6 linked regions of the Homo sapiens genome follow. The gene in region 6 interacts genetically with the main gene of each other region. Each region holds a gene or a part of one and is shown on either strand. Other genes may lie near its edges. The genes, in order: SLC39A9, ACACA, SEC24C, SEC23IP, CTBP1 and ARIH2.

Region 1 (5,153 bases), on a different chromosome or scaffold from region 6:
GTCTCAAAAAAACAAAACAAAACAAAACAGTTTCACAAAATAATATCCAACCTTACAACAGTTACAATGTACTCTTCTGTTTCTTTCTCTGTCTCTCTCTCTTTCTTTCTTTTTGAGACAGGTATGGCCCTTTCACCCAGACTAGACTACAGTGGTGCAATCTCAGCTTACAGTAACCTCCATTTCCTGGACTGAAGTCATCCTCCTACCTCAGTCCCCCAAGAATCTGGACTACAGATGTGAGCTACCAAGTCCTGCTAATTTTTATATTGTTTTTGTGGAGATGTAGTTTTGCCATGTTGCCCAGGCTGGTCTCAAACTCCTGAGCTCAAGTGATCCGCCCACCTTGACCTCCCAAAGTGCTGGGGTTACAGGCTTGAGCCACCGTGCCTGACACTATTCTTATGTTTTTGAGACAGAGTCTCACTCTGTACCCAGGTTGGAGTGCAGTGGCATGATATCGGCTCACTGCAACCCTGTGCCTCCAGGGTTCAAGTGGTTCTCATGCTTCAGCCTCCCGAGTAGCTGGGTTTACAGGTGTACTACATGGTGAGTTCTTGCAAGATCTGATGGTTTTTAAGGGGCCCTTCCCCTCTTCATTTAGCACTTCTCCTTCCCGCGGCCTTGTGAAGAAGGTGCCTTGCTTCCCCTTTGCTTTCCGCCACGATTGTAAGTTTCCTGAGGCCTCCCCAGCCATGCTGAACTGTGAGTCAACTAAACCTCTTTAATTGACCTTTATAAATTACCCCGGCTTCAGGGCCTTTTGTGGTTACATATGAATTTTAGGATCGTTCTATTAAGGTTTATTTGGCTTACAGTTCTGCAGGCTGTCCAAGAAGCACGAATCTGAGGATCTCAGGAAGCTTCCAATCATTGCAGAAGGGGAAGAGGAGTCAGTATTTCACAAGACGAGAGAGGGGAGGGGTGCCATGCTCTTTTAAACAACCAGTTCTCTTGTTAAATTATAGAGGGAGAACTCACTCATCAGCAAGGGGATAGCACCAATATGTGCATGACGGATCCACCCTCATGACCCAAACACCTCCCACCAGGCCCCGCCTCCAACACTGGGATCAAGTTTCAACACTAGATGTGGAGGGGACAAATATCCAAACCATAGCAAATGCCACTGGAATTATGATAGGGGTTGCATTAAATCTGTAGATCACTTTGGGTACTACGGATATTTTAACAATATTAATTCTTCCAATTCATGAACACAGAATACCTTACTTATATTTTCTCCAATTTTTTAAATCAATGTTTTATAGTTTTCAGCATATAGATCTTTTACCTCCTTGGTTAAATTTATGCCCAAGTATTTTATTTTATTTTATTTTCTGATGCTATTATTATTTTTTTAAAAATTATACTTTAAGTTCTAGGGTACATGTGCGCAACGTGTAGGTTTGTTACATATGTATACATGTGCCATGTTGGTGTGCTGCACCCATTAACTCCTCATTTACATTAGGTATATCTCCTAATGCTTTCCCTCCCCCTCTGATGCTATTATGAATGAAATTGTTTTCATAGTTTCTTTTTCAAATAGTTCATTGTTAGTGTATAAAAATGCAACTGATATTTGTATGCTGATTTTGTATCCTGCAACTTAACTGCATTTGTTTATTAGTTCTAATTTTTTTGTGTGTGGAATCCTTAGGTATTTCTATGCATAAGATCATCTCACCTGAAAACAGAGACAACTTTACTTCTTCCTTTCCAATGTGAATGCCTTCTATCTTTTTTGTCTGCCTGACTGTTCTGGCTAGGGCCCCCTATATTTTATTTAATGTAGAGTAAAGTGACAGAAAAAGCCACAGTTAATCATACCTCTATAAAGAATCTGATACATGGCATTCTTACAGAACTGATAAAAATGAGTGGGATAATCTACATTGAGCCATGGCTGACAATAGCAGTTTTGACAATACATCACATTTATATTTTCATCTTTGACCCAATAGTCTACCTTCCTAAACATACCAATTCTAACAGTCCAAAGAATTTTGAGATGTTTTCAAATTTTGGCTGCACAGTAAAGTGCTGCATTACCCAACAATCTTTGAAGTTCTTAAAACTTGTTTCTATAGACAGTTTTTTTTTACGTGAAAGCTGATAATCATCTAATTCCAGTGATTTTAGAGCTATAATTACAGAAGAGTAAGAGGTTCCTTTTTACATTAATTAGTATTTAATAATGCTTATTAAAGCATCAGAGCACTTAGTTAACATGATATACTGAGTTCTGAAAACAATGTATTATAATTATAAGGTCCACAGAAGAACGAAACCATAGGCTGTAGTAACATGTATACAAACGTCTTTCTTGAAGTACGAAGAAAAGTTGTTTTGGTCTACAATAAAGAAAGAGGGGGGTCAGGCGCGGTGGCTCATGCCTGTAATCCCAGCACTTTGGGCGGCCAAGGCAGGTGGATCACCTAAGGTCAGTTGTTCAAGACCAGCCTGGCCAACATGGTGAAACCCCGTCTCTGCTAAAATACAAAAATTAGCTATGCCTAGTGGCAGGTGCCTGTAATCCCAACTACTAGGGAGGCTGAGGCAGGAGAATCACTTCAACCCAGGAGGCGGTGGTTGCAGTGAGCCGAGATGGTGTCACTGCACTCCAGCCTGGGTGACAAGAGCAAAACTCTGTCTCAAAAAAAAAAAAAAGGGTAAGGGAAGAGGGTAAGAAAAGAGAGAGTAAAGCAGCAAAAACAAAATTACAATGATATGTCTAAACTCATCAGTATGAAGAAAGATGTAAAAAATCTGGAGACAGCTTAGCTGAAAGGTAATATCATGGTTAAGTTACTTCACAGATTTTTTTGAGTTACTCTTCCCAGCACTTTGGGAGGTTGAGGCAGGTGGATCACGAGGTCAGGAGTTCAAGACCAGCCTGGCCAAGATGGTGAAACCCATCTCTATTAAAAATACAAAAATTAGCTGGGCATGATGGCAGGCACCTATAATCCCAGTTACTTGGGAGGCTGAGGCAGAGAACTGCTTGAACCCGGGAGGTGGAGGGTGCAATGAGCTGAGATGGTGCCACTGCACTCCAGCCTGGGCGACAGAGTGAGACTCCGTCTCAAAAAAAAAAAAACAAACAAAAAAACTTCTTTAACAGAGGTATTAACATTTTACATTTTAAAAGGAATGTTGGAGACATCTGATGCTGGCCATGTTACAGTAAGAGCATTTTGACGTCAATCACCCACTGATTACAACAAAAACTGGACAAAACACACCAAAAAACAACTACTTCAGGACTACAAAAAGTAAACAACAGCAAGTGAAGGCAAGGCAGCAAAAACTTCTAGAAAAACCCTGTCTTTCCGGCCAAAGGACCAGGAAAAGAGGTTGCTAAGAGGTAGTGAAGTACAGGAAAGTCTCCCCTTTTTTTCTCTACCTCCTCTTTTTTCTTTCCTGGTCCTGCCTTTAAGGCAGCCCCAGTTGCAGAACTGCATGGTGGCAACAAAGGCAGTTAAAACCCCATCTTTCTGGCCAGAGCAAATAGAAAAAGGGATCCCAGGCCGGGCGCGGTGGCTCACGCTTGTAATCCCAGCACTTTGGGAGGCCGAGGCAGGTGGATCATGAGGTCAGAAGATCAAGACCATCCTGGCTAACATGGTGAAACCCCGTCTCTACTAAAAATACAAAAAATTAGCCGGGTGTGGTGGCAGGCACCTGTAGTCCCAGCTACTCGGGAGGCTGAGGCAGGAGAATGGCATGAACCCGGGAGGCGGAGCTAGCAAGGGATCCCAGTGGTCTGAAGTGTATGGGGGAAACCTGGTTATGCTGTTCTGCCTTTTCTGCTGTTACTTTCTTTTGATAGAAGCCCAAGTCACATGGAACTATGTGGTGGCAACACATGTAGTGTTGCATGCAGCCACAGCTCTATAGAGAAACCTTGTCTTTCTTGACAGAGGACCAGGAAAATGGGGTCTGTTTGCAAAACAATGTGGAAGGAACACTGGAGAGGAAAGAGCTGAGAGAGGGGTTCTTTAATCCTATGTATAAACGGCACAAGTCCCAGGCTCACCCCTGAACTCAGTATACACAGGACATAGCCAAAGCAGCATTGTAAAGGCTTTGAAAACTCAGCTAAAATGAGAACCATCATCCAAAAAACAAAAAACAAAAACAAAACAGAACTTTTAGGCTGAATCTAAATAGGTTAACTTCCTGCTAAAACAAAAGAAATAAACATTCTCCAGAGATTTTGACGGGACTCAGATTCTCAAGTTATCATATTCAAAATGTCCAGCATACAACCAAAAGTTATTTGACATACAAAGAAACAGGAAATTTTGACCAATTACCGAGGGAAAAGACAATCAACCCAACCCACAGATCACTCAGATACTGGAACATTCAAAGACTTACTTAAAGCAGCTACTCTAACTATGTTCTCTAAGCTAAAAATAACATACTTTTGGAAAAATAATTTTTAAAAAATAGAGACAGGGTCTTGCTATGTTGCCCAGGCTGGTCTGGAACTCCTATACTCAAGTGATCCTCCCCCACCTGAGCTTCCCAAAGTGCTGGGATTACAGGCGTGAGCCACTGCGCCTGGCCGAAAGGTAAAAATTCCTCAAATAAATGAACATCCTCAGCAGAGAAACAGACACTTATAAAAAGAAACGAACTGGAAATTTTAGAACTGAAAAATATAATATCTAAAGTAGTAAATTCACTGGATGAGATCAATAATAGACTGGAAATGGCTGGGCACAGTGGCTCACGCCTATAATCCCAGCACTTTTGGAGGCCAAGGCAGGTGGATCACCTGAGGTCAGGAGTTCCAGACCAGCCTGGGCAACATGGTGAAATCCTGTCTCTACTAAAAATGCAAAAATAAGCCAGGCGTGGTGGCACACCCCTGTAATCTCAGCTACTTGTGAGGCTGAAGCAGGAGAATCGCTTGAACCCGGGAGGCAGAGGTTGCAGCAAACCCAGATCACACCACTGCACTCCAGCCTGGGCAAAAGAGCAAGACCCTGTCTCAAAAAAAAAAGAAAATAGTAGACTGGAAAGGACAGAGGAAAGAATCAGGGAATCTGGCTACAATGGCCGAGGTAAGAAGTACAAATTAAGATCACGTGGCTCACAAAGTCTAAAATATTTACTATCTGATGCTTTACAGAAAAAGT
Region 2 (5,153 bases), on a different chromosome or scaffold from region 6:
AGCAACCTCACCCCACCAGACATAAATGCATGCAGACAAAAAAACATGGGGACAGACTCTTGTCCAGTTTCCAGTATTTCCAATATGCTCCTCTTCTTCCTAGAAACATAGCTAACTAGTTAGAGACTAGATTTTTTTTTTTTTTTTTGAGACAGAGTCTCACTCTGTCTCCTGGGCTGGAGTCCAGTGGCACAATCTCGTGGCTCACTGCAAACTCTGCCTCCCGGGTTCAAGTGATTCTCCTGCCTCAGCCCCCCAAGTAGCTGAGATTACAGGCATGCGCCACCATGCCTGGCTAATTTTTGTATTTTTGGTAGAGATGGGGTTTCCCCATGTTGGCCAGCCTGGTCTCAAACTCCTGACCTCAAGTGATCTACTCGCCTTGGCCTACCAAAGTGCTGGGATTACAGGCGTGAGCCACCATGCCTGGCCTGGTTAGTGGCTAAGTTTTGACAAACAGGACACCAGCATTGGTAAGTGATATGCATAACTCCCAAGTCATATATATATATATATATATATATATATATATATATATATATATATATTTTTTTTTTTTTTTTTTTTGGAGATGGAGTCTCGCTTTGTCACCCACCCAGGATGGAGCACAGTGGCGCAATCTCGGCTCACTGTAACCTCCGCCTCTCGGATTCAAGTGATTCTCCTACCTCAGCCTCCTGAGTAGCTGGGATCACAGGCACATGCCACCATGTCAGGCTAATTTTTATATCTTTAGTAGAGATGGGTTTTCATCATGTTGGCCAGGCTGGTCTCGAACTCTTGATCTCAGGTGATCCGCCCACCTCAGCCTCCTAAAGTGCTGGGATTATAGGCGTGAGCCACAGCACCCAGCCCTAAGTCATATTTTGAAAAGGAAATGTCTCATTCTCTATTCCTGGCTTTTTCCTTCTTATTCATTGGAACATAGTCATGATAGTATAAGCCAACTTCAATCATGCAAATGAGAACACACTAAGAACACCAAGAAAAGAAAGGAAAAGAAAAGAAAGAAAAAGAAAAGAAAGAATGAACCTGAATCCCAAGATGGTCTCGTGGAATAAAACACTTCCACCAGCCCTGAAAAGCTCACCTCAGACTAGGATGGGAGAGAAAAATAAACTTCTATTTTTGGGGGGGTCCGCTGTGTTTTTTGGACCTTTTTGTTATAGCAGTTTAACCTGTATCCTAATCGATACAGGAATTATTAAGTGCAGGTAGAATGTTGCTGTTTAAAAATATTAAAATATGAGATGCTAGCTTAGCAAAAGGGTAGTGGGTAGCAGAGAAACAGATACTGCAGGCTGGAAAGGTGATAATCTCCTTGTTGGGATAACACAACATTTGGTAAACTGTTTCCTACAATAACTTGGGATACTGACCACACACCAACTAAACCTTAAAAAAGATGGTCTGAAAGGGTCAGAGTGTCGAAAAAGCCAACTTCTTTTGTATCCCCCCAAACAGAAAATGAGATTATCACCCTGAAGCAACTCAGTGTCAAAGATCAAACGTGCTGCTTTAGTTTCAGCTGGCCCCAAGATAGCCAATATTAAATCAAGGCAAGAGAGATAGGCTAAGCACAGAAGCCAGTAAATAATAGAAGAAAAGTTTCTATATCTAGAAGAAATCTATGAGTATGATTAATCCAACCCAAAGCTGATTGCAAGCAAATAGCCCAGAAGCTTAGTTAAGTATTTGAAGGAATTGTATTTCTAAACAAACCACAAACCTGGCCTTCAAAAGCCTGCGACTGATGATTGGGATATTTGTGCCCTCAATCCTGCACCAGCAGGAAGTGGGTTGTGAAAGTTCTGCCAAAGAAGGCATAGTCTCCAAAGCCCAACTCACAGAGAAAACTGAATGAGGAAGAACTTCCCAGAAAACAATGTCAGGTGTCTTGAAGGACAATGAACAAGGGATTTACTCCCTTATTGCACTTCTCTGGAGTGTGCAGTAGCAGAACCAGGGACAGCCAGGTCTAACTGAGGTAGTATTCTATTATATAGCAGGGAATCATTGCAATTCCTACCTAAAAAGGAGGATTTGATAACTGCTATGGACCAACGATTGCTATGTATTTTTCATTTTTCCAAATGAGAGTTATCCTGTTCCTATTCCATCATTGTATATGGGTGTATGGTGAAGGCAGGGGATATAATACTGGGTAAATAACTTGTATTTTGAGTCACTGGCCCATGAAAAGCCACAATACATATCTAATGGAGAAGAATATACATCATATAGAGATCCGGAATCACCTCCAGTAATAACCCATCCAGTTACTAGTAACTGGATGGGGCTTCAGGTTGTCTTCCTTGGACAAAGGCTATGTGTGCTCTGAAAGTAGGAAAAAGGATAAAGGGATAATAGGTAGCCAGAGGAACAGACTGAGGCACAGATTATGAAATGCCCTCCAGTGACTTTTCTCTACTTCATCATTTTAGGAATAAAATCGAAATTTTTGCTGAGCACATGGTCACCCAGTTAGTGATCACAATTCCTAACATCCTTTGTGCTAGGTATAATTGTGTAACTGAATTTTGTCCAGTGGAATGTGAGCAGAAGTGATGTATGTGACTTCAAGATCATGCTTCCATATGCTTGCCCTCCACATCCCCTGTCTCTTCCTCCCACAGGCCACAATGTGAACATAATCTTGTGTGAGTTAGCTTAATCATGAAGATGACAATGTCCAAGAGCAAAGTTTGGCAAACTTTTTTGGTAAAGAGCCAGATAGTAATTATTTTCAATTTTGTGGGCCATATAGCCTCTGTCACAACTATTCAATTCTACCATTGTAGTGATAAAGCAGCCATAAATAACACATAAATAAATAAGCATCATTGTGTTCCAACAAAATTTTATTTACAAAAACAGGCAACAGGTGAGCAATAAACCTGTTTCTGGTAACAGCTCATCTCTGAACTATGATGAAAGAGAAATAGAAACTTACACCTTGTTTAAGCCACCGTATTTTGCTTATTTATTTATTTGTTTTGAGATGGGGTCTTGCTCTGTCACCCAGGTTGGAGTGCAGTAGCATGATCAAGGCTCACTGCAGCTTTGACCTCCCAGTGTCAAGTGATCCTCCCACCTCAGCCTCCCAAGCAGCTGAGAGTACAGACGTGTGCCATGACACTCAGCTAATTTTTGTATTTTTAGTAGAGATAGGGTTTCACCATATTGCCCAGGCCGGTCTCGAATTCCAGGGCTCAAGTGATCTGTCCGCCTTAGCCTCCCAAAGTGCTAGGATTACAGGCAAGAGCCACCATGCCCGGCCAAGCCACTGTATTTTGAAGGCATCTTTATTACAGCAGTTCAAGAGTACATCCTAATATATACACAACATAGGAAATAGACCTCTAACACACATGAAATATATTTTGAAGAATCTATTTTGATGTAGAGACTGGGTTAGGACTCCAGAAAAGACTATGTTCAGGCCTCTAAACTATAGTTATTCCGAAGGCATCGCTCATGACTTTGAGAAACTACTTTCTATACAAAAAGATAGAATGTGTGAACTCTGAAGATATTTAGAGGACTTTCCAAAAACGATAATAGAGTTGATTAAATTCAGCTGAAGACTTGATGATACTCAACCCAGCAAATAAAACTACCTGATTATGAGCCTCTTAAAAAAATCAATCATAAGATTAAAAATTCCAAAACATTTCTCTTCTTTATCCCTGTATCCTGAAATGGTACGCTGATTTTTTTTAGAAAGCGTTAACTACTTTTAGAAGCTTGACATGTTCCTTGACAATTCTCTTAGTGGGAGAACAGTAGAATTTTTTTTCTCTAAGAAAAGGATATAATTTTATTAATTATTCAGAATCGTTGCTTAAAATGCCATTGTTCTCAGATTGGTACATGAACTGAATGAAAAATGTTCTATGTAAGAAAACATAAAGTAAGCCTTTTAATATATGTACCTGTTCCATGTGTTCAAATACTGCTGGAGTAGCAATAGTAGCAGGTGCTTCTTCAATAATCTTCTGATGCCTGCGTTGTACAGAGCAATCACGACCAAACAAAGAGATAGCATTGCCATATTGGTCCGCTAAGATCTGCACCTCCAGATGACGAGATTGTTTGGCTAGTCTCATCACAAATATGGGAGATCCAGGAACTTCAGCTTGAACCTGTATTAGAAAAGGGGGAAAAAAAAAACCAATTCTTAAATTTTAAACTTTTTATCTATCTTGATAAGCTACTTTGATTTCAACAAGCAGATGTCCAGAAGTGTCAGGAACCATGTTAATCAGCAGAAATACAAAACTGAATAAAATACAGTCCATGCTGTCATCTTTAATATCTTTAAGATGCTGCATTCTTACATAACCAATATTAATTGATAAATATGAAAACATACGAACATCTGGTGCATCACAAAGGTAAACAACAAAATATTTGAAAACATAGGCACATACACAAATCCAACAACAGGGCAAAATACTGCCATCCTGTACTCTGTACAACCAAATGTACAACTTGTTCCAGACAAGATACTTTCCTGGTTCACATTACATCATATATGGTATTGTTGCAGCCAAAGGACTTTCATCTTTAGTTTTGAAGAATATTACTGTTGGGGACAGAATTCTAAAATGGTAACTATTTTTTTTCTCAGCACTTTAAATAATCCCAATGATTTTCAGCTTTCACTGTTTCTACTGAGATGCCAACTGTCAATCTTATTGTTACTATTTTGAAAGTAATCTTTATTCCTCAGCTGGTTTAAGATTTTCTCTCTTTCTGTCTTTTATAGGGGGGAGGGTGGTAGATTTACTCTGATAAGCATAGATGTGGTTCTTTGTATTTGTCTTGCTTGAGGCTCATAGTGCTTTTTGAATCTGTCCTTGGTATCTTTTATCTGTTCAAAGAAATTCTTAGCTTTTCTCTCTTCAAATATGGCTTCTGCTTCATCATTTCTTCAATTATTGTTTCTGCTCCATTCTCTTTCTCTTCTCCTCTGAGACTTAAAGTACATGATGTTAGACCATTTCACATAACCATATGTCTTTTATGCTCTGTATCTTTTTTGCTCTGTTTTGCCATGTAGCAAGTCATCTCAAAACTCAGTGGCTTGCTTAGAACATCAACCTTTTATGATGTTGTTCTCATCTGGGCAGTTCTTCTTCTGGTCTTGC
Region 3 (5,153 bases), on a different chromosome or scaffold from region 6:
GCGCATGGCGCAGATATTCTGTCTGCAGAGGGAGTAGGGAGCACAATGATGAAAGGGAGTAAAGACAAATCACAGGAAAATGTCCCTATGAGTAAAAATTATATAGTTCCCTCTTCCTACATCCCACCCCCAGAGCTGCATTTCTCACTGAAAGAGAAGAGGAAATGCAAAACCGGCCATATCAGACTAGGGGCTGCCATGGGCATATGAGGGAGAAAGCCAAGATTATCTAGGATTCTCCTTTCTGGCCCCATCTCTAATGCCCTTCACTCTTGCTCTAAGAATCTTGATTCCAGCTCCTTCCCTAACCAAATATCTGTAACACCTCCTCCCGTATCCCTGGGATTCTGTGCCAGTTACTGATGCCCCAGGCAAATGTCACCCTACACATAAGAGACCAGTGCCCAACTATCCCCAATGGGACCCAGATAGAAATAGACAAACACACAGAGAAAGACGGAGAGATAAGCAGAATATAAACTGAGCCTTTGGCTTCTAGTAACAGAGAACCCTATCGTAAGATAAGCAAGGCTGAATATGAGTATCCTACCAAGGCCTGGTGGAGCAGCTGCCTGGCTCGCTCTCTTCATGCTGGTATCAGGTACTGGGGTGACAGATCAGGTCCCAAAACAGGTGACAGAAGGATCACTGGATCCTAATCTACCTTTTCTCTTATATGCTGTTCTAACAGCACTAACCTGGGATGACAGGACAGTCAGGAAAACATGGAATGATGTCCTTCTCATCATCTGGAGATGACCATGATACGAGAGGTTCCTACATTCAGCTGTCTTCTCCCCTACAATTTGGCCCTACCTCTTGTTTTTTTTTTTTTTTTTGAGACAGAGTCTCGCTCTGTTGCCCAGGCTGGAGTGCAGTGGTGCAATCTCGCCTCACTGCAAGCTCTGCCTCCCGGGTTCACGCCATTCTCCTGCCTCAGTCTCCCAAGTAGCTGGGACTACAGGCGCCCGCCACCACGCCCGGCTAATTTTTTGTATTTTTCATAGAGACGGGGTTTCACCGTGTTAGCCAGGATGGTCTTGATCTCCTGTCCTCGTGATCCACCCGCCTCAGCCTCCCAAAGTGCTGGGATTACAGGCGTGAGCCACTGCGCCTGGCCTGGCCCTACCTCTTTTCATCCTGCTTGTTTCCTCTAGAGACTCTGTTCCTTCTCAGCAATGTCTTGGGCTTTTGCTCTCATCCCTACCATCCCCTCTCCAGGCATGGGCCCTGGGATAGAAAGCCACTAAAGACAGTCTCCTCTCCTGCCTAACTAAAATATCTTCCATTGTGAAGCTGGAATCACATCCAGGAAGACGCTTTAGACCCCTCTCTACCTCCCTCCCTTTCATTACACTCTAGCCCCTTCCCTGACTCACCTCCTCTGGGGGCAGCCTTGCCAGCGGTTTGATGACTGCTGCCAGGGGCACCTGAGCCTGCTTAGCCATGTCAGATGTGCAAGGGATATTATAGGATGTACATCGGATGTATCGGGGACTTGCATTCCCTGAAGAAGGAGGCAGAAGACCCGAGTCAGATCACAGAATCCTTCCAGACACCAGCTCTCCATTGGTGATCCACACCATCAACTCCACAAAGCTAGAGGTGATGGTGGCTTTTTCCCCCAGAGGGACTAGAGGGAACTTGTCTCTGGTTAAAAACTAAAAAAAAAAAAAAAAAAAAAAAAAAAAAAAAGCCCCAACCATAAGCTGATAATCTTGAAGAAAAAGCCCCTGTGGGAGGAGCTAATTCCATTCTCACCTTGGTCTTTCACCAGGAAGTTGGTAGTGACTAAGGGTGGCACCTGGCCCCGTACTCCAGTAACAAATGGCTCTGTACCCCGGTTGTTCCTGTCATCTTCAATGACCTGAATCTGCAGAGAAGTGCAATGAATGAGGTGACAGAAGAAAAAGGAAGTGTGAGGTCCCAGAGTGCCAAGAGTGAAAAAGGCTAGAGCTGTAACACAAAAACTAAAAATTTGCCAAGGAACACCTCATACACCAGGCCTGTTCTCCTTCTGGAGATCATATAAAATGCTGTAATGCCAATCTTACACTCTACAGCAGCCAATCTTTCACTCCCAGCAGCCTGCTGGGCAGGCAACATGAGAATGGGCTTCTTTATGAATTGCCCCCTACCCCCCATCAATGGTGAACACCCTCTCATTCCTCCCATTCCAGGAAAAGCCCCAGCTCTGATCACAAACCTTCAAACATGATTAGATTCCATTCCCCTCCCCCATCATGCCTTCCCCGATCCTCTCCCCAAGACACATTCTGAGTCAGAGCAGGAAAACAGACAACAGTAACCACGTAAAAATGAATCTACCTGGAATGACTCTACACTCAATGAAATTACAAGGGACAGGGTGAGGAGAGATTTAAACAGCCAGAAATGATCAAGTAAGGTGAGGAAGCAGATGCTGCCTTACTTTCAGGTAAGCATCAATGTGTATATATAGGAGGAGAGGAGAAGTACCCAATCCTTATAGCTCAATCCTCAGTCCTCCACATTTTGACAGACTCAGCAAAGGAAAATAAAGGACCTGCAAAGCTGGTATTCAGACCTTTATGCAGGCTAATGACCTTTGGTCAGTTACTTCAAGATGGGTTTGGAAAACCAGAAAAAGCAAAGGGCAAATAAGACTCTATCCCATAGCAGAAAGGTTGAAGCTTAGAAATATATCAGAGTCAAAAAGACTCTTCAGATGAGAAAGCACCCACACTTTCCCAAACCAGCAGTCCCTTCTCCTGTAAGAAATGCCAGTTTGGGATACTATGAATCTGTACATTCCTACTCCAATATTTCTCCACAACAGGCTACAGACAAATCAAATCCAAAGTGGAATGATCTACCGTTCAACTTTGTCCTCTTCCATCATACATCACCTGCAGGCTCCTGGAGGTGCCAGCAGAACTAAAGCCAAAGCTTGACATGCCACCTGACCCCACCCTTAGAGCCTGACCTTCCACCACCCCATACTCAAGGCAAACAGCTTGCTACCTCTTCATTACCTGGTGACTTGAGGCATGCATATCCTTTTATCTTGTATAAGTGAGTATCTAGAAGGGCTAGGCTAAAGGAAGAGAATGGGGAGGAATGGACATGGTAGATGAGGTGAAGATGAGGTCACAGGCATGCATGGATGGCACTAACACAGGAATGACATGCACAAACACCCACCCCCTGCACTTACTGGACTAGGAATGGCATCGGGGTCTATTCTGTGCCTGGTTTTCTGCTGAGGAGGCAGCTCACTGAGTTGCTTTTAGTGTTTTAATAATAAATGCAGCAGGGGAATACAAGGAGGGAGACAAAAGAACAAGAGGCAGATGTTACTTCTCTCAACCCTGTTGAGTTAGACATGAACAGCTGGAGCCCAGCTCATATTGCTGAAATCAAGCCCCCTCTAGATATGAAATTCCAAGTCTTTCTGGCCCAACACAGAGGCTTTAATGGCTCAGACTATGATGTAGAAAGATAAGGAAAGGGGCAAACAGGAGGCAAGCAGGAGTTACACAGGGAGGGGCTGAGGCTGAATGGAAGAAACCTTAAGGAAGAAGAAGAGGAGTGTTCCCCCTAAAAGGCCAAACCTCCCATTCTAAGGACTATCTTATGCTGAAAGAAGCCTCCCTTCATGTCCAACCAGACTCTCCTTCTCACTGAAGGAGGGGGAAGGAAGGAGAGGCTGCTTAATCCTCTTGAGTTCTCCTTGGCCAACAGGCTCCCTCACTGTGTTGGTTACCCAAAGGAGGAAGAGGGACGAGAACAGAATGGAATATGACAATGGCTAAGCATGGCAAGGTAACTGACATAGCAAATGTTACAGGTGGAACTATAAAGTGGCCCCTACTTGGCAGTACAGTCCTAGTCTCTATTCTGAGTCTGATAAGGAGGGCCTGAGGATTCTGATGGCTCCAAGGGTGCAATTCACCCTCTTCCTGAAAAAAGCAGCTCTCCAGTGGGACTTTACATACACACTGCCCTCATAAACTGTCGTTCACTCTTCCCCATCCACACAGCAGAAGCCTACCAAACAAAAGTACTGGGGACTTCCTCCTAAAACTGTCCAAGTAAGAGCAGAGAAACCAGTGAGGCTTTCCTTCTCTTAACATCTAACATCAGAGAATTCCCACCTGCTCTACCCATTAGGAAGAATGCCATCCTTCTAGATCTAAGGGGACAAGACCCAGTCACTGCTCCACAGAAGGACAAAGGCTACTATACTATGTATGTACAGTAGTGACAGAGTGCAGCCCTCAGACATCTACTGGTGCTGCTGCTCACTCTTGGTTTCCCTTCCTTCTCTGCCCAGCTATAGAGTAAAACAGCCCCCCAAAAGACTCCTAGAACCTCAAGTTCCAGTTCAGAATCAAATTATATGTAAGTTCTCCAAGAAGATGAACAAAAAGGGAAAATTATCAGAAAATGCTAGGCAAACATTTCATCTAGATTGACCTGCCTATCTGGCAGACACAAACCCTTCCTCAGGACCATGAAAGTTTCTACTTACAGGGCTTGGGATGGCATCAGGGTCCAGGCGCTTAGGAGGCAGTGGCTGAGGAGGCCCAGGCTGACTGCCAAAGGTGGGTGCTGCTGGGTAGGGGCCTCCATAATTAGACTGAGGGCCCCGGGCTGGTCCGAAGGAACCTGAGACAAGGACACAAGGTTGATGAACTCAAAATCCCATCCCTATCTCTTCTTAAGGCCTCAGGAAAATGACTAGACTCCTAAAAACATAGAATTATGAGGCACACTAATGCCTGGCAAAGACATTCAGAAAAATACCATGTTATCAGAACGACAAGAAAAAATAATGTCTTACAAACCCCATATCCTAGGAATAATACCCTGAAGCTACCCATCTAATTCACCACTTAGCAAGTAATACTAAAAACAAACAAATAAAAAACATCAAAAACCACCTGAGTAGCTGAAGCCTCTAGCTTCTAAGACAGACCTTGGGAAAGACTCACCATTTTGTTGGGGCTGATAGCCTGGCTGCTGCGGGGAGTGCATAGGTGGCAGTGGTCCCAGGGGCCCAGTCATCTGGGTGCCAGGGGGCAGAGCTTGAGGAGGTGAAGACACATGGTTGGGCTGGCTCACTGAGGGCCCTCCAAAACTCTGTCCAGGCAGGAGTGGACCAGTCATCG
Region 4 (5,153 bases), on a different chromosome or scaffold from region 6:
TATGACCTTGTTGTTGAAAATAAAGAAGTCCTAACTTTGCAAGAAACTCTGGAAGCACTTAGCCTCTCTGAATATTTTAGCACTTTTGAAAAGGAAAAGATTGATATGGAGTCCCTGGTACTGATCATAGTTTGCTTCATTTTGTTTGAAATTGTTTTTCTTGTGTAGATTGAAAATTAAGAATAAACATTTTCGTATCAAAATACACTCCAGAGTAGACAAAGACTGAAATGTTTTAAAAAATTGAAAAACACAGAAGAATATTTTTTTATAATCTGAAAGGCTTTTCTGAGTATGATGCAAAATCCAGAAGCCATCAAAGAAAAAAATTGTATAACAGTAGACACCATAAACAACATCTAAAGGCCAGTGATACATTTGCAACACACATTATAGACAGAGGGCTTACTTCATTGATTTTCAAAGCTTCTACAAATCAGTTACAGAAAGACCATCACATCAGTGTGATATGTAAATAGGCAAAGAATATAAACATGATTTACAGAAAAGGAAATAACAAATGGTGTCTTCGCATATGAAAACTCATAAGAGAAATGGAAATTGAAAGTACAATGGGATTTTTTTTAACTTACCAGTTTGAAAAAATAGGAAGTTTGAAAATATGCTATGTGGCCAGGGTGAAGGGAACTAGGCATTGTTATATATTGTTGGTCAGACTGTAAAATATTACAAACTCTTTGGAAGGCAGTTTGGCAATATCTTTAAGAATATAAAAATTACCCTTTGCTTCATCAGTTTCATTGCCAGGAATATTTCCTATAGAGAAATATTCAAACAAGAATTATCTACAAGGATACTCACAGCAGTGTTTGCAAGGTAACAAAACATTAGAGACACCATTGGTGTTGAGGAGTAGGGTGCTAGTGAAATCATTTATGGTGCATCCGCATAACGGAGTACCCTACAGCTGTTGAATGAATGATGCAGTGTCAGAGATACCCGTCTCTAAGGTACATTTACATGAAGAGAGCAGAGTTCATTACTGTGTGCATAGTAGAGCACACACACAGAGAAAAACATGTAAGTGCTATGCATACATAAGACATCGCTTCAAAGAGAGCAAGTTTCCACAGTTGCGCTGAGAGGAGAATTCTATGTTTGGGACAGCAGTGGGAGGAAGATATTTCATCGTATGCTTGACTATAGCTTTGGAATTTTGTATACCATATGTGTATTTTCTGTTAATTAATAGAATGATTTAGGTGTGGAAGCCTAAGATTTTATAGCCTAAACTGATGCATGATTTAAATACAAAATAACTAACTTGTAAAAAGTTGAGTGGCTCTTAGATTGCTTTAGATGATGTGGTTTCTTTATAATTTTCATATTCTCATTTCAGTTCTTCTATCACTAGATTGATTAATGTGCTTGTCTGTTTCCTTTTAAAGCTTATGTGTACAGTTGATGACCTGAAGGAAATGGGGATACCCCTTGGACCCAGAAAGAAGATAGCTAACTTTGTAGAACATAAAGCAGCCAAACTGGTAAAGTTCACCTCTGACTCAAGAAAAACTAAAACTCATGGTGTGACCAGCTCGTTTATATTATAGAAAATTTTAATACTACTATGGTTAGGTAAGCTAGTTTGCTCCCTACCTAGGGCACAGTAATGGAGCTGATGGAAACCCAGACTTAGGAGTCAGAGTTGGGCTTAAGTCCACATTAGGCTAAGTGACCATCCTGGTTTTCCTGGGACTAAGTTCCTAGGATGAAGGGCTTTCAGTTTTAAAATGGATATTTAAGGTTTTCCTGGTGCAAACAGTGGTTAAGTTCTGACAAATAAATTCTCAGCTCAACTGCTCATTAACTGCGTATTAATGAGCAATTTGTATTTGGTTTTATTCATTTGTTTATTTTGAGATGGGATCTTGCTGTGTTTCCCACTGCTGGTCTCAAACTCCTGGGCTCAAGCTATCCTCCCGCCTCAGCCTTCTGATCATGAGTGATTTTCTTAATTTTTCTGATCCTTTGTTTTCTTCATTTCTAAAATGGAATAATACCTTCCTTACAGGATTGGAGTAAGCATGAAATAATGCATGCAAAGCTTAGCACCAAGTAATAGCTCACTTTCTTCCCAGTCCTTACCATCTAAAGAGATGAGGAAAAACATACACACTGAAGTCTTAAACACTAAACAGCAAAAATTGTTAACAATACAAAACAAGGCAACAGCTAAAAAGCATTTAAAACTAGAACAACTGGAAAATATACTTGTTTTATTAATTTTAATTTATTGATCAAATTAATTTTACAGAGGTTTTCTAATTAGAAAAATTAGATGACTCTTAGGGTGGCCGTCTTATTTGTATTGTTATTAACATGCTCTTTGATGATCCTTCCATCTTTTGAATTTCTATGGTTCTATTATTTTACTACCTGTTTGGAACTTAACCTACATCATTTCTTTATATGGGAAATGACTATAAAGTCATAGGACTGATTTTTTTTTTAATGGTTAGCTTAAGGAATTGAGTCTTCTCAGCATTTTATTGAATAGCAGCTACCTCTTTTGAGTCAGGCACTGTGTTCAATTCTTGGGAGCCGGAGATTAACCAAGAGTGTGCTGTCTAGTTGCGGGGAGCACGTTGAGCTCAAATGACAACATACCAGCCCCATAATAGCGTGCTGTGTGTGCTGTCCTGAGGCAGATGAGAGGTGGCAGTTCTGGCTTGTTGAGACAAGCATGGGGTTGGTGAGAGAAGACTTCTCCAAGGTGATGGTGCTTGAGCTTGAAGGAGGGGTAAGGTCAGGGGAGATGGCCTTCTGGAATCTGGCATGTGTTTTCCTGTAGCATCAGGGAAGCTGGAAACTGGGAAGGGCAGAGGGTTCCAAAGGCCCAGGTGGCAGGTGTGGAGGCTTGGATTTTCTCTTGTAAGGGAGTGGTTTTCAAACATGTTCTTATGGCCATGAAAGTCATGGTGTTTTTAAACATTACAAAATGCTGACCTGCTTATTCTATCACAAGTTATGATTTAGCACCAAATCATCTGTGTAGTCTAAATTTTAATTTTAACTTTTGGACTGTGGAGAGTTTGCTTGGTCACAGTGCACAGATGAAGTTGGAAAGGCGTGAAGTGGAGGCGGCTGCAATCTTACATAGTAGTAATTGTAATTGTACAGTGACTGAAAGAGAGATGATAGGGGTATAAGGTAGGAGGTGGAGAGGAAGGGAGCAACTCAAAAGACATTTTAGACATAGACAAGCAGTATTTGATTAAGTGCTGAGAAAGGTTATTAGTTTTGGCAGTTAAGAGGTATCTTTCATGTCATTTTTCTTGTGTGTTGAATCGTTCTGTAATTCCAATTTACAAAGAGCTTTTCATCTCACCTGAGCCTCACAACAACCCTGTGAGTAGATCCCCAGGCTTTTGTCTCTGATGAGCACAATAGTCAAACTGAGACTAGGACACAAGCATGTCAGTGTTGTTTCTGTATACAGGCTGCGTGCTCCATACAGAAAAATGCTTGTCTCCGTGTATACATCAGTGAAGCAAAAGCCTATAAAAAAAAAAACAAAAAAAACAAGAAATGAGAAGCTTTGTGTTCAGGCCCTACACCATGTTCTTAATTTATTCTGTAATGAAAGGGAAAAAAGTAGAAAAGGATTCTATAGTTCTTGAAGAATTTCTAGAAGGAGACTGGTTTATGGACTGCAGTTGCTTAGATATATAAATTATGGCATTATAAGAATGTTTTGAAATGAGCAAAAATCTATAGAGTGATCTTATTTTTTAAATTAAAAGGTAATTGCCTTTGGATGAACCATGAAACTTTCTCAGCTGAGTTGCCATTGATTGCTTTACACTTCTTACAGATAACAAGGTGCTACTAGATCAATACAAAAGTAATATGGTGTGTCCTGTTGATTTACTGTAACTGAAATAATGGGACCAAAATTAGCGATTATTTTATAACAAGGAGATCAAATATTTGTGATATTTGTGACTGTGTGCTTTTTTTTTCTTTTTAAAGCATCTTAGTAATTTTCATTTGAAAAGGAATTGTTTCTAGTGTTGGGGATATTGATAGTCAAGTATGTATATGTTGGTTCCGTTTTTTTTTTTTTGAAAGGGAGTCTTGCTTTGTCTCCCAGGCTGGAGTGCAGTGGCACGATCTCGGCTCACTGCAACCTCTGCCTCCCAGGTTCAAGCCATTCTCCTGCTTCAGCCTCCCAACTAGCTGGGATTATAGGCGTCTGCCACCACACCCAGCTAATTTTTGTATTTTTAGTAGAGATGGGGTTTCACCATGTTGGTCAGGCTGGTCTCAATCTCCTGACCTCAGGTGATCCACCTGCCTTGCCCTCCCAAAGTGCTGGGATTACAGGAGTGAGCCACCACGCCCAGCCTATGTTGGTTCACTTTTAAACACTGTTGGTTCACAGTTTAAAAAGTATTGCAAATTTAACAAAGCAACTCTTGGCAACAGGACAGTTTCTGATCTCCTTAGACAGCTCTCAGCAATTTAGAATGTTTTATGAATTTAACAGGAGGTACTTCTGAGTGAGAAAGCAGATTTAAAGTGAGGAACCCTGAAAATGTTCCTTATTTCGGATTTTAGGCTTAATTTTGTGTTGCCTCCGAAGGGCAGAGATAACCAAGCCTTCTAAAACATTAACGGTGGAAACAGTTACAAGCTGGCTAAGAGTTTTCTTTTTTATAGATTGCCTTTTCAATTAACCAGTTACTTACTTTCCTGATTTCCTGGTGTTTGGAATTAAATAATAAGATCATTTTGGCCAGCTGTGGTTGTTTAGGCACTGTCGATAGCTGTTTAAATCGAGACTAACACTTAGCCATTCACAGCCTAACAAGTCCCCCTCCCACCCAACTGTTTAAATTTCTCTGATGTTATTGTTGCTGCTGTATTCAAGGCAAATTAGAAAACCAGTGTGAATGGCTTTTCTCTCGTTATAGAGATAACACCTTTTTTTTTTTTGAGACGGAGTCCCGCTCTGTTGCTCAGGCTGGAATGCAGTGGCGGATCTCGACTCACTGCAACCTCCGCCTCCCAGGTTCAAGCAATTCTCTTGCCTCAGTCTCCTGAGTAGCTGGATTACAGGCGCGCGCCACCATGCCCGGGTAATTTTTTTTGTATTTTTAGTAGAGACGGGGTTTTGCCATGCTGGTCTC
Region 5 (5,153 bases), on a different chromosome or scaffold from region 6:
CCCCACCCTGGGCTCACCACGGCGCTAGGACTGAAGGCCTCGGGCGTGCTGCACCGCGGCCCTGACAGGCTGGCTGAGGATCTGCCCTGTATGGACCTGCACGGCCCCACAGCTCCTAGAGAGCTCCACCCTCCTGCCCAAGCCCTGAGCTGAGGACTGGGCGGGGGCTCCTGGCTTGGTCCCCCTGTGGTACCCCTTTTCTGGGTCCCCTCCAGCCCAGCCTCCCCCACGCAGGGCCTCAGCCCACGAGGTGGGACTCCCTGGGACGGCAAAGCCCAGGGCCGTCTGTTCTGAGGCGTGGTCTTTGACTCCAACCCCAGCGGGGCCTGCAGCAGAGCCTCCGTCTTCGGAACAGGCTCGCTTTTCATGCACTTTTGCAAAAAGCCCTGCGGGTGGCTCTCCCTCGGCTTCGTGGCCAGGGCTTTCCTGCAGCCCCCCCATTTCATTCCAAGAAGTCCACCCAGCCACGGTGCTTGGCTGACAGCTGGGCAGGTCACGGTGGCTTTTCTTTGGTGCACTGCTGCCCATTAAAGCCTCACACCCAAGGTCCTCAGGGACGGCAGGGCTCTGACCAGCATCCACGTGCCACACCCTGTCCCCTAGAAGGCTCCAAACCCACTGACTCTGTGAACAAAGGAAGGGGCAGCGGGAACCTGGCCTCATCCTCCTTGTGGCTACAGGCTGCTGGGGCAGCTAGAGTGGGCGGGTGGCCTCTGACACGTGTGTACACACATGCACATACATACAAGCTCATACAAACATGCAGACACATGCACCCACGCACACTTGCCCACACACATACACATCACTGTGCACACACGATGACTCCCTGAAGGGCCTGGAGCCAGCGGGAGGCAGCCATCCCCAGCTCCACCCACTCAAGGGGAACGCAGGGCTGAGGCTGCACTGCGAGCTGTGCTGAGGCAGAGGCCGACCTGAGCACAGCCCGTTCCAGCTGCAGATGTCAGAGGCCGACCTGAGCACAGCCCTTTCCAGCTGCAGATGTCAGAGGCCGACCTGAGCACAGCCCGTTCCAGCTGCAGATGTGAAACCTGAACCTGGCAGCACGGAAGTCACAAGGGCCGACCCAACGCCCCCAGGTAGCTGCATCTGTCCCCACTGTGACAACAGCAAGGGCTTCAGGGGAATTTGGTGTTCAAAGGTATGAGGTTCTGTCTTGTCCAGAGAGTATTTTAGATGTCCTGAGTAGAACTCAGAACACAGAAAACGCTGTCTGGGCAGACAGGGCTTCCCCCAGCAGGGCTGGCAGCCGCCGCCATGTGGCTCGCTGAAGGCAGGGTCTTGCCCAGGTGCAGATGGCTGCTGGGAGGGACCTGCCTGACACCCCCACCTGTACCTGCCCCGCAGAAGTAGAGTCCTGTGTCCCCGGCTCCACGCACCTGCTTGACGGTGAAGTCGTTGATGAGGTGGTGGTTGTGCTCGTTGAGGCCGCAGTGCAGGGTCACGCAGTCGCTGTGGAAGAGCAGGTCCTGCAGGGTGCTGACACGCTGCAGCCCCAGCGCCCGCTCCACGCCATCCGACAAGTAAGGGTCGTAGAAGAGCACGTTGAAGCCGAAGGCCTTGGCCCGCAGCGCCACTGCCTGCCCCACGCGACCTGGTGGCGTCAAGACACAGTGTGAGACCCTTGCTCACCCGTGGCCGGGAGGCCGGCCCCGAAAGCCAGGGTCGGAGTGGCCTCTGTGCCTCAGTTTGACCATCTGCCAAGGATGACACCAGCTGTGGTCAAGCCAAGGTGCCCACGCACGCTCCACACGAGCGCTCCACGTCCGCTCCAACGCGCCCACTGCCAAGGCGGAGGAGATGCACAGGGGTGGAAAGGGTACACTAGCCCCTCGGCCCACACCAGCTGCCAGCCACACCACTCCCCTGCAGCCTGTCCACAGGACGTGACATGAACCACTCAGTGTCAAACGGACTGGTCAGTGGGTCTCCACCCACCCAACACATGTCCTCCGTGCCCAGGCCCCTCCGCTGGCCTTTCGATCCACCCATCAATGTTTCCGGCATCTCAATTCCAGCCACCACTACGTGGAGACGGCAAAGGGGGCAGGAGGGAAACTTCCAGACCAGGGAGGCCCCGCTGGGCTCAGGTCCTGACCCCTTCGAGTGGAGCGGCAGAGAAAGCCATCCCAGGCAGACGTGCCTGCCCCCACCCCAGCAGTCCAAGGCTGGCACGGGTCCCAGCACAGGAGCCGTGGAGCTTGAGCCACCGTGTCTGGCTGGGGCCGGCTCCTCCTCGGGGAAGGGTCTGCAGAGTGCTCGTGCCCACTGTGAGCCAACAGCATGGCTGCAAAGGACACAGGACCCCAAGCCCGCGAACGTGGTGTCTCCTGCATTGCCTCAGAGGGAACCGCTACACAGGAAGGAAGCAGGTTGAGCGCCGGGGCGGGTGGGAAGTGGGCGCAGTTTCAAAGGCGGCAGCCAGGGCAGGCCTCCCTGAGAAGACCAAGCTTGCTGGAGACATAAGGGGACAGGAAGGGAGCCAGAGAGCTGGAACAACACGTGCGAGGGGCCCGCGGCGGCCTGAGGGCCAAGGAGACCAGACCGCCAGGCACACAGGGTGGCCGGACGTGGCCCAAACGCCCAGGGGACCCCCAGTCACTCTGGGAAGAGGACTGGGGGAGGCTGGGAGGCCAGTCAGAAGAGCTGAGGACCGTCTAAACGCACTACATCCTAGAAAGGGAGGCGCCTGTTCTACGAGAAGGAACATGGTGGCTCCTTCCATCCCCAGGGACGAGGCTGCTGCAGGAGGGAGGAGGGCTCGGCAGGCGGAGGTGGGAGCAGCAGTTCTGAGGGTTGCAGCCACGGCCGGAGTACCCGGGCAGCTCCCCAGGTGCAGAACAGCCCGTCTGTCAACGCCCCCTGCCAGGGATCCCACCAAATGGGGAGGAAGAGAACACAGGCAGACACAGAGAAAGGCGTCTCCCACAGCGCAGAAGGCGGACGACACGCTGTTTCCCACTGCGCACAACACAAAGCCCCGGAAGTCGGGCTGCCGGTGGCGAAAACCAGCTAAAGCCGCGGGCCGGCGCCGGCCACGCCTGACACGGGAGAGCAGCGGCTGTTCGGGGCGAGACCATTCTTCACTTCTGTCTCTGCCATTCTCTTCCACATGATGTCTGGCTTAGGATAAGAAATTATGATGATGCAGGTGAAGAGACAGGAGGATGTAGTTTCTAATTAGAACAAAACACTGGAAGCGGACAGACGCACAGATGACCGAGGCTGGAATCAGCCAGCAAAACCTCTTAATAACTACTATAAACATGCTCAGAGATGACAACAAGTGTGGATGTAAACAGCAGAAAAATGGAGGCTTCCGGAAGATGAATGGTAACTCTATAAAGAACCACATAGAAATTCCAGAACGAAAACATCCCTCTGAAACGGAACTCCCTGGACAAAGCTAACTGCAAGAAAAGGATCGGGAGCTTGAAGGGAGGGGCTCAAAGTCAGCAGATGGCATCCAAACAGAAGCAGAGAGAAAAGAATTTAAAAAATAAATTTTAAAGAACAGGCCTTGGTGGCTGACGCCTGTAATCCCAGCACTCTGGGAGGCTGAGGTGGGCGGATCACAAGGTCAGGAGTTCGAGACCAGCCTGGCCAACATGGTGAAACCCCGTCTCTACTAAAAATACAAAAATTAGCCGGACGTGGTGGCGGGCGCCTGTAGTCCAAGCTACTCGGGAGGCTGAGGCAGGAGAATGGCGTGAACCTGGGAAGCAGAGGCTGCAGTGAGCCGAGATCGCGCCACTGCACTCCAGACTGGGCGACAGAGCGAGACTACCTTCCACAAAAAAAAAAAAGGCAACACATTTTCGGACAAAGAAAAGCAAAAGGAATCGGTCACTGGTGAGCCACATTTCTAAGACAGTCTTTAGGCTACAGGAACGTGACGCCCGAGGACAGCCAGAATCGGGGGGCGTAAACAAGGCAGAAAGGGTGGATGTGTCGGTTGATATTCAAAAGAAAAATTACTGAAAAATTCCTTGACAGACTCATGACTAATAGCTTCTTGTACGGTTTTCTGCATAATAGACGTGGAAAATCGGCCCGAGGGTGAGAGGAGCCACCGCGGGCCTCTGGCCGCCCTGGACGAGTCTTCACAGGTTATGCTGGGTGGCAGTGAGTTATGAAGGCGTATCCTAATCTCTAAAGTAAAACTAAACACGATCACTAAGCAGAGTATAGGTTAAAAAGCAACAACAGATGCAAGGAATCATTTAACACCTGATTAATATAAAAGAAGGCCAGAAAGGAAAAACAAGGATGAACAGAAAACACGTAGCCAGATGACACCGAAATCCAAATCATCAGCAATTACACTAAAAATAAATGAACTGAACACTCAAGAGGCAAAGACTGTCAGACTGAAAAAAGAAAGAGGAACTAACTCTATACTATTAATAACAGACACACTTTAAACATAAAAGACAGAAGTCAGGCGCCGTGGCTCACACCCGTAATCCCAGCACTTTGGGAGGCCAAGGCAGGGTGACCACTTGAGCCCAGGAGTTCTAGACCATCCTGAGCAACACAGCAAGACTTTGTCTCTACCAAAAAATAATAATAATAATAATAACAATTAATTTAAAAAAATTGCAGTGGCACGCACCTATAGTCCTAACTACTTCGGAGGCTAAGGCAAGAGGATCTCTTGAGCCCCAGTGCTCAAGGCTGCAGTGAGCCGTGACCGCACCACCACACTCCAGCCCGAGTGACAGAGCAAGACCTTGTCTCTGAATGAATGAATATAAGAACAGAGATAAGCTAAAATTAAAAGGATGAAAAAAGACATACCACACAAACACTGATCAAAAGAGCTGGGATGGCTGCCTCAACATCAGACCAATTAATTAGACCACAAAAAGACCAACAGGAAACGTCCTACTTAATGGTGAAATGTCAGAAACTTTTTCTCCCACATCAACACGGTAACACCCACACTCACTGCTGCTGATGATTGTAGCTAATGCAAAAAGGCAAAAATAAAGAAATTAAAGAAATAAAAGGTACAGAGATCAGAAAGGAAAATGTAAATCTGTGTTTATCTGCAGATGACACAGCAGTGTGTGCAAGAGAAAATTCAAGAGAATCTGTTTTTGGCAGAGGCAGGTCTCATTACGCCATCC
Region 6 (5,153 bases):
GAAGGCCTTGTTCTTTATGCTGTTTGCTGCCTTTGAGGGTCATTGAGCTCCTCAGATATATGTTTTTTTTTTTTTTTTGAGATGGAGTCTCACTCTGTCACCGAGGCCGGAGTACAGGGACACGATCTCAGCTCAATGCAACCTCTATCTCCCAGGTTCAAGCGATTCTGCAGCCTCAGCCTCCTGAGTAGCTGAGGTTACAAGCTCGCGCCACCACACCCAACTAATTTTTGTGTTTTTTAGTAGAGACAGGGTTTCACCATGTTGGCCAGGCTGGTCTCAAACTCCTGACCTCAGGTGATCCACCTGCCTCGGCCTCCCAAAGTGCTGGGATTACAGGCATGAGCCACCGCGCCCGGCCTTGTTATTTTTTATTTTTTTCAGAGACAGAGTTTCACTGTCATCCAGGCTGGAATGCATCGGTGCAATCAGCTCACTGCAGCCTGAAATTTCAGGCCTCAAGCAGTCTTCCCACCTCAGCCTCCTGAGTAGCTAGGACTATAGGCAGGAGCCACTATGCCTGGTGCAATTCTATATAAACTTAGATCATTCCAGTGAGTTGCTACCTGGTTTAAGCTAAACGTTCTAAATTCCTCTTTAATATCTGGCTTACGTTTGGTCTTCACATCCTTTCTGAATTTATATAGCCCCTTCGTATAAGTCATCAGCTGGGAGAACAGAAAGTGTTTGAATATTCAGGGGGTTCTGATTTTTAGACAGCAACTAAGAGATGTCCTCATTGTTTCCTCTTGGTGTGTTCACAGAGTCATTACCAGCTCCAGCTGTGCCCTGGTGCAGACTGCCCCATGGTTATTCGGGTACAGGAGCCTAGAGCTCGCCGAGTACAGTGCAATCGGTGCAACGAGGTCTTCTGGTAAGAGTGAGTGTGAGTGCTGAGCAGCCCTGGGCTCATGCCCCATCCTCCAAAGCACCACTGCTGTTGCTCCATGTGAGGGCGGCACTGGAAGAGGCAGGGTCTCTGAGCCAACAGAACAGCTGTGCTCCAAGTGGGTAGGTTTATGTCCAGCATCTCATATTCCACTAGGTCTTCAATACATGCTCAGTCTGGAGGCAAGGAAGTGACACAGGTTCTTGGAAAATGTGTTGTGGCTTATGCTACTAGGTCTCATGGCCCAGAGATTGTGTGGGATGTATCTGCCTGCATAGCTAATCACATATTACTGTGTTTGAAAGATATAAACTTGAACATTTTAATCTTTCTCTGTCTTGGCCTTACTTGGCTAATTTTTGTTAAACTAAGTCATAAATATATTCTACATCTACTCAAGGTTCACTTCATTCAGTAGATACCATGGGAATAACTAAAGTTTACCGAAGGCTTACCAGGTGACAGGCACTATCCTGATCACTTACCCTGCATTATCACAACTGTATATGACCCTTATATTCTCTCTTTTTTTGTTGTTTTCTTGAGACGGAGTCTTTCTCTGTAGCCCAGGCTGGAGTGCAGTGGCACATACTTGGCTCACCACAACCTCCGCCTTCCAGGTTCAAGTGATTCTCCTGCCTCAGCCTCCTGAGTAGCTGGGACTACAGGCATGTGCCACCATGCCCAGCTAATTTTTGTATTTTTAGTAGAGACAGGGTTTCACTGTGTTGGCCAGGCTGGTCTCAAACTCCTGACCTCGTGATCTGCCCGCCTTGGGCTCCCAAAGTGCTGGGATTACAGGATTGAGCCAACCGCGCCTAGCCATGACCCTTATATTCTATGAATAAATCAAGGTACAAGGTAAACCTAGTAAATCGTAGAGCCATAATTTAGGCCCAGATCTGTCCTAATCATACCTCCCTGGAATATTCATGGTGGGGCTTCAGAGAAACTACATGGAAAATGTGATGTGTGTGTGTACGCACATGCCTGCATTTCAAGACATTATTGACACCAAAGGTTAAGAATCACTAATGCAGTGGTTCTTTCATTTTAAATCCGGCAGCCCCCAGGATCACAGCAGATTCAGAAGACTCCTTGTAATTGTTCTTTATCCTTGTGTCCCACTTTATGAAATTCTTTCCCTGGGTATTTGCCTGAGGGCCTTTTCTAGCCACAAAGTACTGTTGGCCTCCACAAAAGAAAATTTCAAAATATGGAAGCCTAGCCCGACGAATATTGGAGTGTCTTTTTTTTCTGTTTTAAGTTTCAGTGTCATCAGATGTATCATGACCCTACAGATTTTGCACGTTCTGGCATTTGTGCATTCTTGTGTGCATATCTGACTGGGAGATCCGATGAGACTCCCGGAAGTGGGTCTCAATCCTGCCTTAGGTCTGAGCTAAGGAGTCCTTCTCAGAGCACCTCACCATGCCCTTTGAGAGTCATAGCTCTGTGTTTGACATCTTGGGAGTTGGTAAACAAGATGTTTAAACAAGGTATTTAACATACATATCATAGCTCACTGCAGCCTCAAACCCCTGGGATGAAGTGATCCTTCTGCCTTAGCCTCCCAAGTAACTGAAACTACAGATGCCCAGCTAATTTTTTTAAATTTGTTGTAGGGGCCAAGTGTGGTGGCTCACACCTGTGACCCCAGCTTTAGGACCCCTGTGACTTTAGGAGACTGAGGCGGGTGGATCACCTAAGGTCAGGAGTTCCAAGACTAGCCTGGCCAACATGGTGAAATCATGTCTCTACTAAAGATACAAAAATTAGCCAGGAATAGTGGCAGGAGCCTGTAATCTCAGCTAGTCAGGAGGCTGAGGCAGGAAAATCACTTGAACCAGGGAGGCAGAGGCTGCAGTGAGCCAAGATCATGCCATTGCACTCCAGCCTGGGTGACAAGAGCGAAACTCCATTTCAGAAAAAAAATTGTAGAGACAGGGTCTTCCTATGTTGCCTAGGTTGGTTGGTCTCAAACTCCTGGTCTAAAGCAATCCTTTTTTTAAAAAACAGGGTCTCTCTCAGTTGTCCACGTTGCAGTACAGTGATGCGAACACAGCTCACTGCAGCCTTGACCTCCAGAGCTCAGGCAAATCCTCCTGCCTTAGACTCTCTAGTAGCTGGGACTACAGACACATAGCACTACACCTGGCTAATTTTTTCATTTTTTGTAGAGATGGGATCTCACCATATTGCCCAGGCTGGTTTCAAACTCCTGGGCTCAAGCAGTCCTCCCATCTCAACCTTCCATAGTGCTAGGATTACAAGCATGAATCACTGCACTCGGCCTACAGAAATATTTTATTTGTGCGTGTTAGAGCATGTCTTACAAAGGCTTAAGTTGAAGAGACATTCATGCAGTATTTCAGTATAACTCTGGGTAGGTAAAGGTTCCACAAGCCTTGAGAGATAACTTTACCTATTTGAAAAGCTCTAGGCCGGGCACAGTGGCCCACGCCTGTAATCCCAGCACTTTGGGAGGCTGAGGCGGGCAGATCTCGAGGTCAAGAGATCAAGACTATCCTGGCCAACATGGTGAAACCCCATCTCTACTAAAAATACAAAAATTAGACTGGGCGCGGTGGCTCACGCCTGTAATCCCAGCACTTTGGGAGGCCGAGGTGGGTGGATCACGAGGTCAGGAGATCGAGACCATCCTGGCTAACACGGTGAAACCCCGTCTCTACTAAAAATACAAAAAATTAGCCGGGCATGGTGGCGGGCACCTGTAGTCCCAACTACTCGGGAGGTTGAGTCAGGAGAATGGCATGAACCCGGGAGGCAGAGCTTGCAGTGAACCGAGATCACGCCACTACACTCCAGCCTGGCGACAGAGCAAGACTCTGTCTCAAAAAAAAAAAAAAAAAGAAAAAAGCTCTAATTCATGATTTGTTGGCTTGGATAAAAGGAAAATTTTGAACATGGGACCCTGACTTAATGAATATTTGAATGTTTTTCTTTTCCAATTTTAAGTTTCAAGTGTCGTCAGATGTATCACGCACCCACAGACTGTGCCACAATCCGGAAATGGCTCACGAAGTGTGCAGACGACTCTGAAACAGCCAACTACATTAGTGCTCACACTAAAGACGTAAGGACCGTATTTTACCTCTCATGGATTTGCCCTCCTTAGTGCTGCCCAGGGCCTTGCCTTGGAGATTTGCCATCTGAGAGCAGAATACCCAGAGCCCCAGGACCCTTCCTGAGGACTGGGGGTTTGGGGACCCTCACACAGAGTTGGCAGCTCGTAGCAGTTTATTATAGGATGCATTGGGTGCATATTTTCTTTATTATGATGAAATGCCAAAATGCCAGGAAAGGGGGACCCAAAGGGGGAGCTAATTAGAAGAGAACTAATTATGATTGAACGCCTACCAGCCTTTAACAGCCCTGAAAGGGAGGTGGTTAATAGCCACACTTGATACATATAAGGCTGTAATGCAAGCCCAGACCTGCACGATACTCATTTTGAAGTCTCCCATGGGAAAGTATGGCCTGTGGGCTCTAGGGGCCACTGTACCCTTTGTCAGTCACTCGCCGAGTCAGTGCACTCACAAGCACAGTTACGATAACGACATTATTAAACATAGTCGACTTCACGGCAGTGGGAGATCACAGCATCAGACTGGTGTCTTCATTGCTGCCTCAGGTTGCTGGCATCTCTCAAATGGGAGAGATGAGCTTTAGATGTGGTTTCCTTGCCCTCTTCTCGAAGCAGAAGTTCAGGCAAGCTGACCAGGACTGAATCCATTGTGGCAGCTCCTGTGCTTCTTTGGCAGTCCTCTCAAGAAGGCAGGCTTTCTGCTGATTCAACTTGTGCTTAATCTGAGTAGCTTCATGGCAGGGGCAGATGGTGGAAGACTTAGTGGGGTTCAGCTGGTGCTTGAAGCATTTCAAAGCTAAATGTGCTGACCTCATTTCCTTGAATTGCTGTTCCAGCCTCAGCGACCTGCCACATTTAAGTGAGGTGCTCCTCCCCAGAAGTGCTCACACCATGAGCAACTGGGCACAGGTGCCAGGAGCTTTGTGTAATTTGTCTTAAAACCAACCTGGTGGTGTGTGAGCCTAATGGCACCCTTCTGTCTCCTCAGTGTCCCAAGTGCAACATCTGCATTGAGAAGAATGGAGGCTGCAATCACATGGTGAGCAGAAGCCTCTGCAGTTTGCATGTGTGACATGGAAGCTTTGGTCAGTGTGCCCTTAACGTGTTTTCTTCTGTTTCCCTCTGACAGCAATGCTCCAAATGTAAACACGGTGA

The links.
Region 1: changes in ARIH2 (region 6) and SLC39A9 together harm fitness more than expected from each alone (negative genetic interaction), as found in Homo sapiens cells (one large-scale study listed by BioGRID).
Region 2: changes in ARIH2 (region 6) and ACACA together harm fitness less than expected from each alone (positive genetic interaction), as found in Homo sapiens cells (one large-scale study listed by BioGRID).
Region 3: changes in ARIH2 (region 6) and SEC24C together harm fitness more than expected from each alone (negative genetic interaction), as found in Homo sapiens cells (one large-scale study listed by BioGRID).
Region 4: changes in ARIH2 (region 6) and SEC23IP together harm fitness less than expected from each alone (positive genetic interaction), as found in Homo sapiens cells (one large-scale study listed by BioGRID).
Region 5: changes in ARIH2 (region 6) and CTBP1 together harm fitness less than expected from each alone (positive genetic interaction), as found in Homo sapiens cells (one large-scale study listed by BioGRID).

What each region holds. Positions count from the first base shown.
Region 1 is NC_000014.9:69,435,545-69,440,697, reverse strand, and holds part of SLC39A9 (zinc transporter ZIP9), read right to left. Parts: intron 1-5,153. UniProt on the Homo sapiens protein: Transports zinc ions across cell and organelle membranes into the cytoplasm and regulates intracellular zinc homeostasis. Participates in the zinc ions efflux out of the secretory compartments.
Region 2 is NC_000017.11:37,259,750-37,264,902, forward strand, and holds part of ACACA (acetyl-CoA carboxylase 1), read right to left. Parts: intron 4,146-5,153; coding exon 3,936-4,145; intron 1-3,935. UniProt on the Homo sapiens protein: Cytosolic enzyme that catalyzes the carboxylation of acetyl-CoA to malonyl-CoA, the first and rate-limiting step of de novo fatty acid biosynthesis.
Region 3 is NC_000010.11:73,760,210-73,765,362, reverse strand, and holds part of SEC24C (protein transport protein Sec24C), read right to left. Parts: coding exon 4,977-5,153; intron 4,651-4,976; coding exon 4,514-4,650; intron 3,266-4,513; coding exon of another isoform or gene 3,197-3,265; intron 1,874-3,196; coding exon 1,762-1,873; intron 1,508-1,761; coding exon 1,380-1,507; intron 1-1,379. UniProt on the Homo sapiens protein: Component of the coat protein complex II (COPII) which promotes the formation of transport vesicles from the endoplasmic reticulum (ER).
Region 4 is NC_000010.11:119,919,480-119,924,632, forward strand, and holds part of SEC23IP (SEC23-interacting protein), read left to right. Parts: coding exon 1-117; intron 118-1,409; coding exon 1,410-1,505; intron 1,506-5,153. UniProt on the Homo sapiens protein: Plays a role in the organization of endoplasmic reticulum exit sites. Specifically binds to phosphatidylinositol 3-phosphate (PI(3)P), phosphatidylinositol 4-phosphate (PI(4)P) and phosphatidylinositol 5-phosphate (PI(5)P).
Region 5 is NC_000004.12:1,214,591-1,219,743, forward strand, and holds part of CTBP1 (C-terminal-binding protein 1), read right to left. Parts: intron 4,002-5,153; exon of another isoform or gene 1,616-4,001; coding exon 1,401-1,615; exon of another isoform or gene 1,369-1,400; intron 1,101-1,368; exon of another isoform or gene 956-1,100; intron 1-955. UniProt on the Homo sapiens protein: Corepressor targeting diverse transcription regulators such as GLIS2 or BCL6. Has dehydrogenase activity. Involved in controlling the equilibrium between tubular and stacked structures in the Golgi complex.
Region 6 is NC_000003.12:48,969,831-48,974,983, forward strand, and holds part of ARIH2 (E3 ubiquitin-protein ligase ARIH2), read left to right. Parts: intron 1-764; coding exon 765-874; exon of another isoform or gene 875-1,011; intron 1,012-3,868; coding exon 3,869-3,986; intron 3,987-4,834; exon of another isoform or gene 4,835-4,986; coding exon 4,987-5,037; intron 5,038-5,127; coding exon 5,128-5,149; coding exon of another isoform or gene 5,150-5,153.